Linked DNA regions of Homo sapiens: region 2 is linked to region 1. The links come from fine-mapping of genetic effects on gene expression. Tissue or cell type: whole blood. Region 1 holds a variant in brackets; the other region holds the start of a gene. All regions are shown on one strand. Distances are between the middles of the regions.

Evidence for each region. PIP is the estimated chance that this variant, and not a neighbour inherited with it, causes the effect.
Region 2: ARHGAP22 starts here. The variant in region 1 is fine-mapped to the expression of ARHGAP22 in whole blood (INTERVAL, PIP above 0.99).

The regions. Positions count from the first base shown.
Region 1 is chr10:48,662,813-48,665,573 of GRCh38, reverse strand. No RefSeq gene overlaps it. Among named protein-coding and RNA genes, the nearest start is that of WDFY4, 21 kb to the left of the region's middle. The variant A/C (reference allele first, on the strand shown) is at 1,198.
Region 2 is chr10:48,603,506-48,606,266 of GRCh38, reverse strand. ARHGAP22 (Rho GTPase activating protein 22) reads left to right here and starts at 1,194. Exons shown (of 10, transcript NM_021226.4): 1 at 1,194-1,504. The coding sequence starts at 1,471. RefSeq lists a silencer at 1,027-1,186 and an enhancer at 1,043-1,773.

The sequences.
Region 1 (2,761 bases):
AACCTAGCTGGGAAGGTGACCGCATCCACCTTTAAACACGGGGCTTGCAACTTAGCTCACACCCAACCAATCAGAGAGCTCACTAAAATGCTAATTAGGCAAAAACAGGAGGTAAAGAAATAGCCAATCATCTATTGCCTGAGAGCACAGTGGGAGGGACAAGGATTGCAATATAAACCCAGGCATTCGAGCCAGCAACGGCAACCGCCTTTGGGTCCCTTCCCTTTGTATGGGAGCTCTGTTTTCACTCTATTTCACTCTATTAAATCTTGCAACTGAAAAAAAAAAAAAAACTGCCCCCAGTAGTTGTTGCTGGGTGGTGGCACTGGGGGAGATTTCAGTCCTTGATCCTGCCTTTGTGGGATAGGATTCTCCCTCCCTCCTAGTCCTCTACAGTCCCCTACACTTTTCCTATTGCTCATCCATTCTGCAAATTGCTCTGTTATAATTTCCTCCTTGCCATTTTGATTAGTGAGCTCTTGAGTCAGGGAATTTTTCTTGTTTATCTCCATAGCCATAGCCCCTAGTACAGACCTAAGAAATAGTAGGTGCTCAATCAAACATTTAACAGTCAAGTTTTCCCAAGCTTTATTGAGGAGTGTTTCAGATATCTGCTGCTACATAACAAAATATGGTGGTTTGAAATAACAACTACTTATTATTTCTCACAATTCTGTGGGACAGGAAGCAGGCAGGGCTTGGCTGGGGGGTTCTTCTGCTCCACACAGCATGGACTGAGAGCCACCTGGCTGCATTCACTAGGGGGCTGGGAGCTCGAATATCCAAGGGAAGCTTTATTCACAAGACTGGTGCCTCAGTGCTCTTCCTTTGCAGACTCTCTTTCCCTCCATGCCCTCTCATCATTCGTTAGACAGTGCAAATCTTATAAAATATGACAGCTTGGCTTCCAGAGAGAAAGACAGTGAAGCTTCCAGGCTTCTTAGGGTCTACATGCAGAACTACTGTAGCATCATTTCCACCTCTTGGCAGGAGGAAGGGCATGAGCACACTGACAGGGAAGGGATTTGGAGGGCCATCTCTAAAGAAACTAATGCTTGATAAATTTTTTAAAAAACAAGAAGAAAGCATTTTCCAAAAGTAACACTAGGATAAGCTGGTCTGGAAGCAGCATTGGTTGAAGTCTTTGCCCTTGCATTTCAGAGTGGCACGGAGTCCAAGGCATAACTGCAGTAGCAG[A/C]TCCCTGGCCCAGGAGCAGCAAACCCAGAAGTCTCCCTGCAGCGAGGTTGTGCTCTACTTCACAGGGAGAGACCACAGAGCTGGGCTCCCAGTGGACCCACAGAGAATCCTGTGCAGCTCATTTCCCCAAAAGCTTCTGAGCCCCAGCATCTGTGTGCTATTCCTGAGTGGAAAGACCAAGGTGAGCAAGGCAGCCTCCATATGCTCTGACAGCTCAGCCTGCTGGAGGGTAAGGTGTAAACCTGGTGACACATGGCCATGGAGTCAGCAGTGACTTCATACCCACATAAGAACTAAGATGCTACCTGTCCAGGAAACCAAGGAGGGCCCTATCTTGGACTCTACACTTTGAGGGCCCATGAGAACCCAAACAGCACACATCTATTCATGGATGTATGGAATGGGCACCTCTGTTCCTCGAGAGGTGTGCCCAGTGCTGCCCTGCATGACCCATGGCCCTGACCCTGCACACCTGCTCACTGGACTGGCATTGTCCAGCACCTCATCTCTTGCCCTATGTATGTCCTCAAAAGAAAATGTGATTGGATCCAAATGTTATGGATTTGGCTTGCAGGATCAGCTTAGGTTTATGGGTTGTGCCATTGCCAGCAGGAACATTGCTTCCATGTCTAGGAGGAATTGAACGTGGAAGCAATAGGAAAAAAATCTAAACTTCCAGAGGCTTCCTCTCAGATCACCTAAATGTAGTAGGTTCTCCATAAGAAATCTCATCTCTGAATAGTGCCAGACATGTATTTTTTTTTCTGCTCTTTGAGTTCAAATTCATAGTTTCATAGGTACTTATATATCATTGCAAAATTCACAATGGTTCTTCATTGCAGCCTGGAAATATTTCATGCTATTAAACAGCTCACTCCCTCTTAGATGCATATGTGTTGTTCTGGATGTATAATGTCACTTGCGTGAAGTATGACATAGATTCTTCATAGCACCCACTAGATGCAAAACAAACACCAGAAATGCTAACAGTTTAATTTTTAGATTTATTTTTTATTTTTAAAATCACAATAAGAATTTAATTTTATCAAATAATGTTTTTTAATTTTTTGTATTCTTTAATTATCATATACATTTTGCTTTTTGATTTTTTAGAGAAATCTTTAAAACTGTAGTAATAATAACATGCATTGGCACAGTTTCAACATCCTAACAAGACCTATCTATGTGTACACATGTTAGACTGGTAATGTATATTGTTGCCACTAGTGAGTACCTACTCTTTTGCAGATTCACAGGAAGTTGCAAAAATAATCAAAGAGGTCCCAGATCCCCTTGACTCAGTGTCTCTCAGTGATTCTATCTTACATAACTTAGTACAATATCAAAACCAGGGAACTGGCATTGATGCAATGTCTATCACTCCAGTTGTATTACATGCAGATTTATGTAACCACCAGGGTGCAGAACTATCCTGTGGCTGTAAGCTATCCCTCATGCTGTCCCTTGTAGTCACACCTGCCTTCTGCCCCATTTGTCCCTAACCCCTGGCCACCTCTCATCTGCTCTCCAACTCATTTAGAGAATGTTATATACATGAAATAAT
Region 2 (2,761 bases), 59 kb after region 1:
TCTCCCTCTACAGCTGCTAAAGTTGATTACATACCAATAGGACACTTGGGGATCTGTGGACATGGGGCACTCGAGGGAGTGTGGAGGGTCAGATGGAGGCTATGGCCATCTGAGCAGGGGAGGGCATTGTTCAAATCCCTCTTTACCAGCTACTGAAAGGGTCACACAGTTCTCAGGCCCAAATAGCCAGACCCAAGCTCAGATGCCTAAGAGGATACACGGAGTGATTATCAGGGGCACAGAGGCAGGTCACCGTTCAGCAAGTTCATCGGGGGCTCAAGCCAGGAGCTGTTACCATGCAGTGATGGGAATAGGGTGGAGAGGCTGGCATCACAGAGCAGCAGGAGCTGTAGACACAGCCCTGGGTTCTGGTGCCCGCCCTGCTGCTCGGTACTGTATGACTTTGGGCAGGTGATTCAACCTTGCTGTGCCTTATTTTCCAGATTTGAAACGCTATATATATAGCACCTGCTTCAGGAGTTTGAGAGTTAAATGAGATATTGAATGTAAAGCACCAGCCTCAGTGCCTGACACATAGTAGGTGCCTAATAAATGATAGCTATTGTTATGATTGCATTCCTTGGGTAATTTTTAGCATCTTGAGGCTGGATTCCGCTCCTCACAAAGCCCCAGTATACACCCTTTAAAATTATGCCAGCATCAAACAGAAACATGGCAATTAGCAGAGATTCACTATTCAATTCAGATCTTCCTATGAAGAGCCCTGAGTTAAGTGCTTCCTGCCCTCTTATTCCTGTCACCTTACTAAAGAGGCATAAATAGTATCCCTAACAGGCATCTTCCTGTTGGGAGTCTCCTGAGGAGTTTACATTGCCGGGCTGCTTGCTCCTTCCCAGACACACCTGACTTTCAACACGTAAAACAGTGAGCTCATAAGCGGGTCCCCGTGGATTGGGCTCTGGGGTGGGGGGGGGGTCTCGGCTACCTTCTCACCAAAGCGCTATCCCACCCGGGCTTGGCAGGGAGTGCGGCTCCCAGGCGGCGGCTGAAAGGCGCATTTCTTCCAGCCTCAGCAAAGGATGGCCGGAACCCCAGTACCCTCTCCCGGGCCAGGACCGCGCCCCGCGTCTCTGGCTGGCCCCGCCCCTCTCGGCCCCGCCCCGCCCCCGCGCTCAGCTTGGACAGCCACGCGTGCGCCCAGGCCAGGCGGAGGGACTGCCCCGCCCTGGTCCAGTGATTGATCAGCAGTGATTACTGAGGCTTTAATGGTCCGCTTGGATGGGAATTAATTCTGGGATGGATAAATAATGCATCGAGGTTTATGTAGTCCAAGGCGAGCCGTCCGTCCGGAGCCAGGAGAGGTAGCCGAGGGAGCCTGACGGGTGACGCCAGCGGCCACGGGGCCCCGAACGAGCAGGACATGAGGGGCGACTAGGCGCGAGGACGAGCAAAAGCAAGTGGATGACAGCATGAACGGCCCTGCGGGGCTGGCCGGACGGCTGCAAGAACATGCTGAGCCCAAAGATCAGGCAGGCCAGGAGGGGTAAGTCCAACTTTCTGGGGTTTCTCTGGGCACCGCATGTGCCTCTTGGCAAACGTGCGCGGACACTTGGCCAGCCGTCACGCCATGTGTCACATGGGGCGGGCGTTCTGGGACCATTGCCGCTGAATAGTGAGCATCCTCCTGAGGAAGTGCCCTTCCTCGTGAAACTCCTGGGCTGGGTGGGGACACGACCTGAAGTTGCAAAAGGGCGGTGGCCGGCTTAGTGCCCCAGTGGGTGTGCACACTTCGCCCCACATTCCACATTTTACAGAGGCCCTCGGTCGCTCCAGGTGACCTGGTGGCAACTTTAAGGAAACTTTGCTTCTTTACTAAAAAGGAAATGCCCAAGATTTGCCCTGTGGCCAACACAGAAGCACCCCTTACCAGGGAAGGCCATGCCCTGGCTTCTAGAGACAGCTGGGTGCAAGCGAGGGTCTTCGTTCCCGCTGCTTTGCAGACAGTATTTCCTCAAGCAGGCCAGGGGCAGGCAGGCTTTCCTGCCAGAACACTCAGAAAGCTGCAGGGTCTGGGGGCAGGACGGGTGGATGCGGGAGCAGACTCAGACCAGCAAGAGATGGGGGTCAGGAGAGTCCAGGACTGGGCTAGCCAGCCTGTGTCCAGCCAGCGACCCAGCACAGTGACCTGAAGACTTGGCCACTGTATGGGGCTAGAGACAGCATCTCCATGGACAACAACTTCTTAGCCACGGAAAGTGTCATTTTGAATGAGAACATCTGTCTTTTACAAAAATAGAATGTGTCTTTTCAGGTGGCCAGTATCTGGGAGGGCTGAGCTCCTTTTGTAAACAATGAAGTGGAGGATGGGTCTTTGGAGGTGGATGGAGCATTTGCCTGGGAGCTTGGAAACAGTTTGTGTCTCACCAGGTGTTTGCAGCGGGGGGCCTCCAGCCTCCTGTGGATTCACAGGGAACACACCCATCTTATTAGCACACTGCAAGCACTTGGATGATTTTCCTGGATGGGACCAGCCTTCCAGTGTGTTCCACAGACGTCAGGACCCCTCTGTGGGGTGCTTTCGCATGGGCTGAACCCTGTGTACCCCAATGGGCAAAGGAGGAACTTGCATGGCTCTGCTGAGGAGGGGGCAAGTCTAGTGATGACCCAAGGGATAGGACAAGCCAGATACCTCTGCGAGAGCTTAGTTCCACCCTCCCACTCCTGTGTAATGAGCTGGCCACTGGCCACATGTGGCTACTAAGCACTTGGCATGTCACTAGTCCAAATTGAGAAAAAGACA